Linked DNA regions of Homo sapiens: region 2 is reported to be linked to region 1. The links are microRNA targets in miRTarBase. Many come from high-throughput screens and were not tested one by one. Region 1 holds a microRNA gene; the other region holds the end of a gene's coding sequence.

Region 1 (7,262 bases):
AGCCGGGCATGGTGGTGCACGTCTGTAATCCCAGCTACCCGAGAGGCTGCGGCAGAACTGCTTGAACCCGCGGGGGGCAGAGGTTGCAGTAAGCCAAGATCGCGCCATTGCACTCCAGCCTGGGCAATAGAGTGAGACTCTGTCTCAAAAAAAAAAAAAAAAAACGGGGGGGGGGGAGTGAAAGGGAGGGAGGAAGAGGGTGAGGGTTTGGAGGGGCCCAACCAGGCCCACCTGTGGTTGCATGGATCTCTAGCCACCTGCAAAGCCAGAAGGTACCTTGAGCTGACAGGTCCGTGTTGTTCAATGGTTCTATAGGGAAAATCCTGCCCCCATGCCAGGTTGTTGATCACCCACGGTCAATGCTGGAAGGGGCAGCTGCTGCTCTGGGCCAGAAGGAGAGGCTTCCTGGCACCGTGAGGAGGCTGGCCTGGCTGCTCACAGCTCCCGGCAGAAATGCGGAGCGGGGTCCTCACTGCAGCACCCGGGCTTTTCAAAACAGTGAAGCCCTGAGTCCAAGAAGGCAAACCACAGAGCGGAGGTGGCCGTGGGGCTGCCCTGTGGGCAGAGGGGAGGCTGCGCAGGCCTAGTGGCTGCAGGAAGCTCCAGTGGCCGCCAAGAACCTCCAGGCCCATCACCACGAGGAGGGCCCCCACTGCAGCCAGGGCTTCCAGATGGGCAGAGGCGGTGGGAAGCAAGCAGGAAGCGGAGACTGGTTGGCTGTGGCCCTGACCCCTCTTCTCCTGATGGAGTGTGGGGGGCTGGGGCTGCCTGGGGTCACCCACTCAGGTCTCTCACTCCTGCCCTCCCAGGAAGTGGACAGTTCCCACAGCCTGGACCCAGAGGCCCGCAGGCACTGACCGCGGCCCGGAGGCCAAGCTACAGTGCGTTTCCCGAGGGAGGCCACGGGGCACCTGGACGAGGGCAGCTTAGGACGCTCGGCTCTCGTCTCAGGAATCCCAGGGCAGAAGTCCAGCGAGGCGGCAGGTGGCCGGCCCGTCCCCAGCCTCTCTTCCCACTGAGGAGAGATCCAAGGGCCGGCGGAGTGGTGGTGTCTGCTGCTCTGCGGGAACACGGGCACCAGGCCCAGCAGTGCATGGATGCGGCAGGCCCCGCGTGCGATGCCCTGGTCCCCACGACTGTTTCTTCCCACGCCGCGGAGTGCATTCCCTCATGCTCCCGTCCTGTGAACACGCGCTGCAGCCTCTGCCCTCCTGGGGCTCCCTGAGAGAGGGGGCACCCCTTGCTCCCATCACAGTCCTCCTGCAGCCTGGGGCCCCGCCCAGCACGCCCACCAAAGGGGAGGCCCGCTCTCCTGTCAGAGCCAGGACAGCCTCTCCAAGAACTCTTCCTGGGCCCCAGAGAGGAGCCCCCTAGGTTCGCTTCTCGCCAGCCGCTGCCCCATCTTGCGTCTCCACCCAAGGGCCCCTCGGCGCCCCCACCTGGAGCCCCCACTATCGAGATATGTCTGGCGGATACCACACACAAGGGGGCTGTAGCGGGTTGGGGAACAGGCCAACCCCTCCCAGACTGCAGGGACAGCTAGTCTCACACAGCTAAGACCAAGATGATGTAAGGAAATGAATGACAGTAAACCCAGCCCTTACCGAACCCACCTCCCGAGCAGGGAGGACCTGCAGGAAACAGAGGCTCCCATTCCTGTTCACCTCTGATCTCAGGGGCAGACACCAGCCCATCACTGCCGTCTGCTGACCACCCCTGCAGACGGCCTGGGCCTTGGATGTCCTGCTCCTCTGGGCTCCCCAGGCTGTGTGAAACGGAGGAGTGCAGGGGTCAGGACCCCTCGACTTTCTTGGGGGCAATCAGGCCGTTTGTAACGTCCTGATACAGCAGAGCTGGGGACTGGGGTTACGAAAGACACCACCAGGTGGAGCCTTCAGATGGGACCTCCCAGCAGGGCCTCCAGGCTGGGGACCTTCAGGCAGGTACCTCCAGGCTGGGGACCTTCGGGCAGGTACCTCCAGGTTGGGGACCTCCCAGCAGGGCCTCCAGGCTGGGGACCTTCAGGCAGGCACCTCCAGGCTGGGGACCTCGCAGCAGGGAACTCCAGGTTGGGAACCTCCAGGCTGGAGACATTCCAGTAGGGACCTTCTGGTTGGGGATCACCAGGTTAAGAACCTCCAGGTTGGGGACCTCCAGACTGGGGACCTCCCAGCACGGACCCCCAGGTTGGGAACCTCCAGGCTGAGGATCTCCCAGCAGGGACCTCTAGTGTGGACCTCCAGGCTGGCACCCATGGGGCAGGTTTCTTTCTTCTTCCCCAGAAGCCTTTTCATCGTGGCAGTAGGACCTGACCTTGACAGAGATGATATTGCGGATTTCAGTGACTGAACCAGAGTCGGAAGCTGAAGGGCTCTGCCCAGCCTTCCTGTCTTCATCCATTAAGTCTGATCGGCAGTGGTGGCCACCTGGGCTGCTGCTTTGACAAGATGCCAGTAGTTGGAGCTGGGACCCCAGGGAGCACTGTCCATCCACCGCACAGGAGTAGGGCTTCAGCAGCTGTCAGTCATCAATCATTTCCCCATGCTGTTGGATGGGAGAGGGACAATCTGCCAGCCCCAGTGTGACTGGCTTTGCTGCCACCGCAGTGCCCTCTGGGAACCCCGGCAGGTCGGCTGGAGGCAGGACACCACCCCCCTAACCCCTCCCTACTTGTCACCAGACAGAAACCACAGCTCACCAACAACCATACACAAACAGCGCACTAAAAGAAAGCATGCGGCAAAAATACCCGCCCAGCGAGAACTGTGCCTGGCACAGGGAAACACACTGGGATGCGCGCCCTTCCGCGGGGCGAGGCTGGGTTTTGGGGTATAAACTGAGTCCTGGGGAGCAGGAGCCTGAGGGGCACCCAGGGCAGCTCCCTCGGCCTGGGTCACAAGGTTCGATCCTCCGCGGGGGTGGCAGGAAAGCCCAAGTCCCTCGGCACACCCAGGTGACAGCGATGACGGCCCACAGGCGTGGCGCCTGGGCCACATCGGACAGGCCATGTCCTGGAGCACTCGAGGCCCCCTGGACAGGGCAACCAACCCTGAGTCCACCGGAGTCTGCTCGCAGACCACCAGGAGCCCCGCTGCACTGTTCGTGAGCCACGGTGGTGACGGCAGCTCAGGAGGGAAGGACCAGAAGCCTGGCCCCGTCCCACGAGGACAGACGCAGGCCTGCGGGGAGGCATGTCCCCACCCACGGGCGCCTCCTGGACCACGAGCTCCTCTTTCTCCTGCATCGCCTCAGACCCCACCCAGGGGTTCCAAGGTCAGGAGCCTGGTCCCACGTCCCACAGCCCTCTCATGGGGCACCCGTACGGATTCTGTTCCAATTTAAAGAAAACCTTAATCAGATTTGTCACCTCAATTATTAGAATCCCACGGCGTTAACTCACAGTAGTAAACTGCTTTTTCTGAGAAACAAGAGTTTTTTAAATTAAGCCTTTTATTTTAACGCAATCGCAGGTGACGGCCGTCGTGAGGGAACACGGGACGCCCACGTGCCCTCCACCACCTCCTCCCACGGCAACCCTCGCAGAGTAGCCAGGACCACATTCGGATCCGGACTCTGAAATGACAGTCCCACAACCAACAGCATCGATGTGGTCTTCTTAATGATCAGAAACACACAGGGGATTAATTTACTCTTATTCTGCAAAATAAACAAGCTCTCAAATTCTTTAAAGGTGAATCCCCCCCAACCGTCCTCCCTCCCCAGTTACTTCCTCCCTAGGACACCAGTGGAACATCCCATGCTCTCCCCCTTCCATGTTGATACCGAATAAAACACACTGCATCAGAAGACCCACGCATACGAGTCCAGGGGCTGCTACAAAGCGCGGCGACGTCTCCGCGGCGAGCTGGCCACTCCATGGTCCCGGCGCAGACACTGGGGCAGGCGCCGGCTCTGTCGTCGAGGCGCTCACAGGCAGGCACACGTGAGCTCCTGGAGGACAGGGAGAGCGGCCGCCCCGCCCCTGCGGAGCACAGGACGCTTCCTGCCACCCCTGCAGAGCATGGGACGCTTCCTGCCATGGTGCCGTGGCAATGGGTGGCACCTGCCTGTGGCCCCTTCTCAGAAGGACGTTTTAAACGCGTGAGGTCTGATGCACAGCCACAGGGAGACACAGACGAGCAGATGTGGGCATCCGAGTATTTACAAGGTCTGGTGGCTCCTGCAGCCGCGACACGGGCTGAGCGCAAGTGATGTGTGAGGTGTCCCCAACAGATGGCACGGGGAGCGCCCACACCCGCCACCGCGGGGTCTGCGGAAGCTCGTGTCAGCTGGAGGTTAGGGAAGACGCACAGGGGCTCATTCTCCACCCAGGTTCAAACTCCCTGAACTCACGAGACCCAGGCTGAAGACATGGACAGACTCCCAGCCCCAGCGCCCCTCTGACAGCACACCCGAGGCCTCCTGGGAACCTGGGACCCCTTGCAGGGTCCCCCGCAGGCTCCTTCCTAGGAAGGAGGTTCCTGCCCTACTCCACATTTCTCTCCATCCAACTTCCAACTCCTTCCCACTGGGCCCTGGAGAACATGACGAAGACTGTGGGGGCCTCCTCCCAGGAAACACACACACACACACACACACACACACACACACACACACACACACACACACACCAGCAACGCGCCCAGACCCCAATCCCTGGCAGCCCAACTCCTCGTTCTACAGAGAAGGGGTGAGGATCTCCAGGGGTGACTGCTCACATCTCGGCACATGTAGAAGGCAGGGCTGGAGCAGCGGCCCCTGCAGCCCAGGCCAGGGGACTGGAGGCCCTTCCACAGCAGCCCTTTCCTTTTGATACACGGTCTTGCTCTGTGGCCCAGGCTGGACTGCAGCGGCACCATCACAGTTTACTGCAGCCTCGACCTCCTGGGCTCAAGCAATCCTCCCACCTCAGCCTCCCAAGCAACCAGGACTATAGGCATGTGCCACCATGCCTGGCCAGTTTTTAAATTTTTTATAGAGATAGGACCAAGGCTGCTCTCACACTCCTGAGCTAAAGTGATCCTCCTTGCCGGCCTCCCAAAGTGCTGGGATTATAGGCATGAGTTTTCAAACTCCTGGGCCACAGCGATCCTTCCGGCCAGCCTCAAAGTGCTGGGATTATAGGTGTGAGCCCACGGTGCACAGCCCCCACTTTCTTCCTAAAAACCCTGCAGCTTGGCTGACAGTGGGACCTGCCTCCCTACTCCCGCCTGCAGGAGCTCAGAAGCCTCAGCTCAAGAGGAGCCCTTGCCAGAGACGTGGGACCAGGAATGGGCCCCACAGAGCCCTGCCCGTGGGCTTCCTAAACAGCCTGAGTTCAGCTGCACACACCAACGATGTAGGCGGGTTGCAATAAACAGCAAGAAACGGACCCATGGGACAGGAGAGACGCAGGAGCCCCAGGGGACAAGAGAGACGCAGAAGCCCCAGGTGCCTTTGGTGGCCAGTGCTGAATTTCGCAAGCAACATTAGAAACTTTTTATTTCTGCTTTTCTCTTAACCCAAGGGTGAAAATGGAAACCTGTGGTGTGGGGCAGTCTGCTGAACGCTAGGATGAGGGCGGGGAACAAGAGCCACCCTCCCCGCTGCCACCTGGCCCACAAGAGCCTTCCCAGGGGCTCTCCAGTTTCAGCCCCTCCTTGCCGAGCCAGACAGCGCTGCTGGCCTGGACGGGAGGGACACCCAGGCTGACTGAGTGGGGGAGCACTTTTTATAAAGATCAGATCAGGTTTCTGAAAACAAAAAGCCCCCAGATCCTGCGAGCGGCTATTTAGACTTGATGCACACTCCACCATTTCACAGGTATCCATTCCCCAGCGTCACACATGCCCATCCCCAGCTGGAGCACACTCTTCAGTGTGGAGGACAGAAGGAGCAGGCAGAAGACGACCCCGGGGCGCTGGGGGAGCAGGTGCGGGCTCCCACATACCTGCTCTATTCTGGTTGGAGGTGTCACAAGGGAAGGCGTGGAGATGCTGCCAATGGGGACATGCGGCAAATGCGCCCCCTTCGCCCCACACCTGTCAGCAGCTAGCAACAACTCAGTCCTGACTGCTGGAGACCCAGCCCCAGGGGCAGGCAGGTTGGGATCCGCTGCTCAGGAGGCAGCTCTGGGCCAGGGTGGAGGCCGGAGAAGCCAGGCACCTCCCCGCAGAGCTCTGCAGAGGCCAGTCTGCTAACGGCTTCATCACTGGAGTGGCGGCTGCTAAGAGCAAAGCCTGTGCTTGGTACCTCAGGGACCTAAATAAGAACCACTCCCTGTTCCAAGGATCCCAAGTGGGGGGAGGACGAGAAGCAGCTGAGCCTATAGGGCACAGGAAACTCACTGGGGTGTGGGTGCTGGGGACTTGGGTTGGGTGCTGTACTGAGCAAGCCTGTTGTGGGGGGACACTGCTGGCGGTGGGTGACGAGGTGCACAAGTCAGGTCAGGGAGGGGGACTCTGCCCTGGCACCACTGGGGCACAGGACACTGGCTCAGGTGTCAGCTGAGGACCCCCCAGTGTAGGCGAGGGGCTCACAGCCGCTGAGGCCTGTGGACACAGCTCCGTGTATTCTGAGGTCGCAGAGCACAAGAGGTTGGGGGTGTGATACGGACCGACCTCGCCCATCCAGGAGGAATGGGGCTGGTAACAGAGCTTTGTAACCCCTCAGCACCGGTAGAGGTTGCGTGGCTCCCCAGTGGAGCTGAGGGCTGGCGTTTCTTGCTCTGTATTTCCCTGCGCTCTGGAAACTCCTGCATCACCAGCCTTGGGCCCTTCACTGCCTCCCCTGGGCCTCCAGAGGCAGGCTGGGGTCCTCTCCTTTCTCAGCCTCTGTGGCCAGTGTCTGGCACAGGACAGACACCCACCAGGACGCTGCCTGGGACGGAGGGCTCCCTTCTGCCTCCGGCCAGGTGGGCCCCGCAGCAGCTCAAGCTTCAGCTGCAGTGGAGGGAAGAGTGAACTGCTGGGCAGAAGCAGAAGCAGGCCTCCTGGAACTCGTGACCCCAGATCCCAGAGGCCCTGCCCCCTTGCCACCTCCCAGAATGTTGGCAGGGCCTCTGGGTGATTTTCATCCACATGCAGGGGTGTCACATAGGCCCCTCGGCTCCAGCTCCCCACTGAACGGCAGCTTTGTATCCACAGGTAGGGCTGGGCGGCTCCAATTTGAACTTAGGCATATGGACGCTGTCTAACGATTCACGACACTCCTCGTTTCTTTCGCTACTATTGGACCAGTTGAGGGTGGAGCCCAGCTGCACCTGGCATTGCTGAAGAGCCCTC
Region 2 (7,000 bases), not on the chromosome of region 1:
CTTCTTTTTCTCCATTTTTAACAAGAAGTTTATTTAAACAACAAGATGCTTGACTTTAAAGGAAAACTATTTAGGATTTTTTTTTAAGAGTAATTTATCTCTAGTTAAAGACAGATTGCCCTACATGTAAGAGCTATATACACGAAAAGTTATAAAATTGTCCTTGGTTTTACAATGATAAATGAAAAACATTAAAATTCTCCAATTGAATAAGGTATGCAAGGATTTTTTTTTTTTGTTAAAATAGTGAGAACAAAATAACATTGCAATGTAAGATAAGAGTTGAATGAGCATGCCACTGATGGAGAAAGGGAGGTAATTTTCAAGAATCGGTATTTTTCCCCACAGATATGTTTTGATTGACATCAAGTGGATGTCATTGGCCATTTAATATTTAAAACAGCAAAATGCTTGTGAACATACACCCATTATTTTATGTACAATAAGGGAATGGGTAAGGGAAAAATAAAAGAATAGAGAAAACTATACTATAGTAATAGTCATGATGTGGTGGAACCAAATTGCAGTTTTCTAATTGAGAATGTAATCTTGGTCTATAAGAACAAAGTTCTAGAGTAAAGAAGCAGGTTCCTTTTTCAGTAGACACTTCTTGTCTGTTGCTGAAACACATCAATTGTATCTTCATCCTCCATTTCCAACTGTGCAGGTGTGTCTGTTTCATTGACTGGTTGCCTGTCAAATTAGAATCTGATCTGCCTCACTGACAAACTCTGTCATTCACAATAGACTTTCATTACTCTACTAAGTGGTATATGACTCTTTTTTTTTCTTTTATGAGATGGCATCTCGTTCTGTCACCCAGGCTGGAGGGCAGTGGCGCGATCTCGGCTCACTGCAACCTCCGCCTCCCGGGTTCAAGCAATTCTCCTGCCTCAGCTTCCCAAGTAGCTGAGACTACAGGCACATACCACCATGTCCAGCTATTTTTTTGTATTTTTAGTAGAGACGGGGTTTCACCATATTGGTCAGGCTGGTCTCAAACTCCAGACCTCAGGTGATCCACCCACCTTGGCCTCCCAAAGTGCTGGGATTACAGGTGTGAGCCACCATACCCGGCCGGTATATGACTTTTAATTTTAAACTGCACCATGGAACAATCCTGCCCCATTACCTTCAAATTAATAAGATTGTTATTCTCAGTCTTGACTCCTTCCTTGGGCTTTTCATCAGCCACACGAGTGCTGGAGTCTCCTCAGCTGCTACTTCACCAATGAGGCACCAGGTCTGCACAGAATGAATGAGCACACAAACGGCACCAGGAGAGGCAGAAGGAGGTGGAACAGTGGAACTATTCTGGGTCTGCTACATTTTCATGTAAACTTTAGGATCAGTTGGTGATACTCACAAAATAACTTGCTGGGACTATGACCAGGATCACATTGAAGCTATAGATCAAGTTGGAAAGAACTGACATCCTAATATTGAGTTTTCCTATCCGTGAACATGGACCATCTCTCCATTTACTTGATCTTCCTTGGTTTCTTTTATCAGTTTTGTAGTTTTGCTCATACAAACCTTGTACATATGTTGTTAGATTTATTCCTAAGTACTTTTTTGGGGGGATGCTAATGAGGGCTGAATACGTGGAGGACAAGGTGCTTTTAGAACAGTGAAACTATTCTGTATGACAATGTAATGGTGGATACGAGACATGCATTTGTCAAAACCCATAGAACTTTGCAACACAAAGAGTGAACCGTAATGTAAACTATGGACTTCAGTTATCATAATGTATCAATATTGGTTCATTAATTACAACAACACACTAATGCAAGATGTTAATAATTGGGAAAATTGAGCTGGGGAAAGAGGGTTATATGAAACTCATTATACTATCTGCTCAATTTTCTGTAAGCCTAAAACTGCTCTAGAAAGTAAAGGCTATTAATTTTTTAAAAAATGGAGTACCAACTCCAAATGAAATGGAGACCCTCGTGAAGTCTTCCAATGCCTCCCTTGCCTACAGGATTGAGTCTGTGGTCTCTCACCAGCCATAGGAAGTCCTTCAGTTTGACTGCTCCTCCAGTCTACCCTCTACAATCCAGCCAGATGGAGTCACTCAGGGTTCATGAAGGAACCTGAGACTCTGCACTACTCCCTGGTCTGGAACATTGTCCTTCCTTTGTCTGGTCTGGAAATGCCTTCAAGAAGCTTCTGCAGACGTTAATTTGGGTACACAGAGGAATGATACCAGCCCACAGTATCTGTTTTATAATACCACCTATTGTGTTTCCGGCAGGACCTCTCAGTAGTTTCAGTAGTGGAACTGCTATTCCCACAGACTAAACCATAGTTCCCCAACTGTGCATCAAGGTGCCTGAGGGCACCCACAGCAAATTCACAGGGGGCAAAGTAGGATATTTTGAAAGATATTCAACATCTTTGGCTAATGAGAGAACTATTAGCTCAAGGTAGTTCACAGTTCCATTATTACATTATGCCACAATCCTTTTGATGATGTCATCTTTAAGAAGCTGGGTCTTGGCCGGGCGCAGTGGCTCATGCCTGTAATCCCAGCACTTTGGGAGGCCGAGGCGGGTGGACCACAAGGTCAGGAGAGCGAGACCATCTTGGCTAACGTGGTGAAACCCCATCTCTACTAAAAACATAAAAAATAAGCCAGGTCTGGTGGCAGCTGCCTGTAGTCCCAGCTACTCAGGAGGCTGAGGCAGGAGAATGGCATGAACTCAGAAGGTGGAGCTTGCGGTGAGCCGAAATCGCACCACTGCACTCCAGCCTGGGCAACAGAGCAAGACTCCGCCTCAAAAAAAAAAAAAAAAAAAAAAAAGAAGCTGGGTCTTTAGTGGTTGCTGTGATAAAAAGCAAATGAAAATCAATGTGGGACAGGAAATGAAGGCAGCAGTGTTTGCTTTGATTAGAAAATTTAACAAGTTGTTCAGTGCCCAATGGGCAGCATAGATCCCATTAGTAATTGCAGTTGTTTAAGAATGAAGGCTGGGCGCGGTGGCTCACACCTGTAATCCCAGCACTTTGGGAGGTTGAGGCGGGCAGATCACCTGAGGTCAGGAGTTTGAGACCAGCCTGGCCAAGGTGGTGAAACCCCATCTCTGCTAAAAATACAAAAAATTAGCTGGGTGTGGTGGCGGGCACCTGTAATCCCAGCTACTTGGGAGGCTGAGGCAGGAGAATCGCTTGAACCCAGGAGGCGGAGGTTGCAGTGAGCCGCAATTGCACAATTGCACTCCAGCCTGGGCGACAAAAACGAAACTGTCTCAAAAAAAAAATAAAAAATAAAAAATAAATAAAAATGCAAAAAAAAAAAAATAGCTGGGCATGGTGGCACATGCCTGTAATCCCAGCTACTTGGGAGGCTGAGGTAGGAGAATCACTTGAACCCGGGAGGCGGTGGTTGCAGTGAGCTGAGATCATGCCACTGCACTCCAGCCTGGGCAACAGAGCAAGACTCCGTCTCAAAAAAAAAAAAAAAAAAAAAGAATGAAATAAATATTGTTTCTTCCAATTCAGGTGTATTATTTTTTAAATGGCAACTAACTTGTTAGGACATAAATACTTTTTAAGTGATTTGGACTTAACTACTTAATAAATTGAACTGTTATTTCTTTTGGCTTAGAGGCTCCATGAAAAAATTACTGAGATGGTAATGGTGCTGTGAGCTAAGAAAGTTCAGGAACCTATAGTCTAAGAGATTATCTAATCCAGGGCACTTCAAAAACTTGCATATGTGAAATCAATTTAGTGGGTTATAGCCATATTTTTTTCCCTAATAAAACAGAAGGGTAAGCAGAGTACACTGCATGTAGCAAGGGTAAATATTATTGTGTAAAACTTTTGTTCATTTTTTTTATATATATATACACACACACATATCTACAAGTAATCATGTGTATATTGGGTCACAATGTAAAATGGTTTGAAAAACCACTAAGATTCCAAGTCCCTTATTTTACTGATGAGAAAACAGCCAGAGAGTGAAAGCTGATGATTACAAATCACAGCCATGAGAGCTGGGCTCTGCACTCAGCCCTGCTGGGCTGGGTGGCCGCTGCTCACGGTGACCCTTCAAGGCAGGCCTCATTCTGTCCAGTAGAGGTGTGGTTACTAAGTCATAGAGCTACAGAGGTGAGGGACCAGGTGCCCTCACTTTGGTTCCAAGACCCATCTGCACCCCACAAATGCCACCAGCCACACCTAGAACAAAATGGTTTTAATCAATTGCGTCACCCTCACTCTCCTGGGAGCGGAGCAACAAAAAGGCTCGGCTCCTGCCCCCAGAGGACAGTAAGGCTTATGTGTCTCTCCACACTGCAGGGCCCAGGCTGGGCAGGCAGGGGGTGGGAAGCAGGACAGGGGGCAGGGAGGGAGGGTGGGAGGCAGGGAGGAAATGGCAGGTGGCTGGAACACAAGAAAGCAAAGGGGACCCAGCTGGTCCTTGGGCCCCAGGGCCCAGCCCCAATACTCCTGCTCTCCCTTCTCCCTGGCTAGAGAAAGGTCACGGAGAAGAGACAGGGGAGCAGGTCCCAGCAGCAGGAGAAGCAGCAGCAGCTGTTTCCTTCACCAATAAATATACTTCATTACCAAGCTAGAAGAGAGGGGTGGGAAGAGGGACTGGGGTGGGAAGGAAGGGGGAGAAGCTGCCACCTGTGTTGCTGGGATTAAAGCAATGAGATGGTGCCAGACCCCCCACCACTATCCTCACCCTCCACTTGTCTTCTTAAAACTGTGAAAAAGCTTTTAACATGGCCCTCCTGTCTCCAGGGCTGCTCTGAAGCCTGACTGAGAGGAGGCACCTGGCAGAGACAGGGGCTGAGGGAGGGAGCGAGGGAGTGGAGGGAGAGGAGAAGGGAGGCTGCTTTTCCCCAGGGGCTGCAGCTGGAGGGCTGGAGCCAAGTAAGCACTGAAGGGGAAGCAGGGAGGGAGAGAGGGGGAAGGATGAACCAACTACCTGGAGCAGCTGGAGCTAAGAGCCGGGGGCAGAGGGGAGGAGAGGCCTGGTGAGTGGTGGGTTGATCGCTGCATCCAGTGTAAAGCTTGGGGCTGCTGGGGAGGGAGGGGCCGAGTAAGGGACTTTCCCATCTGAGTGGCTCAGGAGACCCACCCCTCTCCCCTCAGAGCAGCAGGGGACAGAGAAAAGCCATCACTTCTTTGGTCTTTGTGGCGGCTCAGCATGTGGGATGGGAAGGAGGGCAGAAAGGGCAGAGAAGGGCCCTTAGCAGGAAGCGCCACCTCAGCAGAGTAGGCCTGGCTGGGAGCTCTGGCAGAAAGGTCACAGTGAGGCTGAGGAGCGCCCAAGAGGAGAATGGCCGTAGTGCAGAAGTGCTGGCATGGATGGGTGGGGTAAGGTGCAGTGCCCCACCCTCTGCCAGGGCCCTTGGGAAAGGCAGAGCCTCCAGAGGTGGCCAGTGAGAGTAGGTGCAGGGCCAGAGCTAGTAGCCAGGAGAGGAGCGAGGGTGCTCCACAGCGACCTCAGCAGGTGGCCTGGTCTTGCCCACTCCAGGGCTCCCATCCTTCCTTTGGGCTCCGCTCTAACACTGGTGGCTCTGGAGGGAGGGTGGGACCCATCCTTTTTCAAAACCTTTCCTGAAGACCACAGGGGAGCTAGCCTTGCAGGCTAGGGAGCAAGAGTGGCAACAGGCCAAGGCGAGCCCTTACCAATTGGGAATCCCACTCCTCCTGCTGCTGCCAGCTAAAGGGCAGGACAGTCCCTGAAGACAGTTCAGCTTGTTCCTCCCCACCTGAGGCAGAAGGGGTTTTGAGGCAGGCCAGAGCCCTCCAGGGACATGAAAGCAGGAGATGGGGGGGGGCATATGGAGGGGTGTCCCCTCCTGCTCTTTTTTTCAGGGCTGGGGATAGTCAGGGGACAATCAGCCCAGAGTCCGAAAGCCAGCAAGTTGTAGCAACCTCCACCCCTAACGCCAAACTAACAAACAAAACAGGGGAAATGAAAAAAAAGGGTGGTGGGGAAGACAAACCAAAACAGAATCCCCTGACCTCCTGCCCAGGGCAGAGGGTCCAGCCAGTAGCAGGGGCTGGGGACCAGGGCTGGAGGGTCTAGCTGGGCCGGCACTGCACCTGGCCCTCAGAGCTGTCCTCATCATCAGAGGCCCCGGCACCCCCACTGCTCAGGCCCGTGATCCGGTAGCCCATGTTGAGCAGCATCACCTCCAACGGGTCTGCATTCATGCGCCGCTGGTTGGCCTGTGAAGCACCCTCCATATCTTCCACGACTCGGCCTGTGAGGTCTTCACTCTGTGGTGGAGAAAGGGGTGACACACGTGGGGCTCAGGGAGGGAGAGGCACCAGGGTACACGTATAGGGGAGGGGGAGGGAAATACACAGACTAAACTATCTATAGGGGGAGGTACACATACATGCCAGGAGGTGTATATGGTGGAGGGGAACACACAACCTTGGCTACATATTGTTGGGGGTGCTCACGCTGGAATATATATGGGAGATACGCCACCTCAGGATATACAGGCAGGTCATAACATGCTGGGATATACGTGGGGGACAGTACACACCAGGATATGTTGGACACACATACTGGGATACCTGGGACAAGGGGCAGATACAACTTCCCCACCCCATTCTGTTTTGTTGCCACAACTCTTGCTTCATCTTTCTTTCTCCTCTCCTCTCAATGGGGAAGCCTATAGGGGTCCTCTCTTTAAAAGTCACAGCAAATTATCTTGGGAATCAGACATACCACTTGACTTTTGTTTTGCCAGCTGGGAAGAGGGAAGCAGTAGGGCAGAGGGGAAGGGGAGGCACCAAGCCAGCTTCCCTGGCTACCCACCCTGGGAGTGGAGGGGACTCCACTGTCCTAAGTGTCCTTGTGGGCTGGACACTTCACAGGCATCTCTTCTTTACTTCTCACCACAACCTTTCAAGGTGGTGCTGTCATTCCCATTCCCAATGTACAGATGATTAAAAGCCTGGGTCAGAGATGGTGAAGTCTCTCAGGCAGCGAGTGAGGAGACTGGATTCAAACTTAGGC

What was found. The annotated mature microRNA hsa-miR-339-3p reads UGAGCGCCUCGACGACAGAGCCG and lies in region 1 at 3,908-3,930, opposite strand. An mRNA with a match to its seed (bases 2 to 7 or 8) in the 3' UTR can be bound and repressed. Matches are read on the target gene's strand: a 7mer-m8 pairs with bases 2 to 8, a 7mer-A1 pairs with bases 2 to 7 and ends in A, and an 8mer does both.
Region 2: the mRNA of WDTC1 is a reported target of hsa-miR-339-3p. Seed matches in the 3' UTR shown: 7mer-m8 at 5,283-5,289.

What each region holds. Positions count from the first base shown.
Region 1 is chr7:1,019,048-1,026,309 of GRCh38, forward strand. It overlaps MIR339 (microRNA 339), which reads right to left and starts at 3,979; the gene lies at 3,886-3,979. All of the region lies in intron 2 of CHLSN (cholesin), which reads right to left. RefSeq lists an enhancer at 4,090-4,647.
Region 2 is chr1:27,305,435-27,312,434 of GRCh38, reverse strand. It overlaps WDTC1 (WD and tetratricopeptide repeats 1), which reads right to left. Exons shown (of 16, transcript NM_001276252.2): 16 at 3,799-6,249. The coding sequence ends at 6,052. Among named protein-coding and RNA genes, the nearest start is that of TMEM222, 13 kb to the left of the region's middle. RefSeq lists enhancers at 3,603-4,127, 4,128-4,653, 4,654-5,179.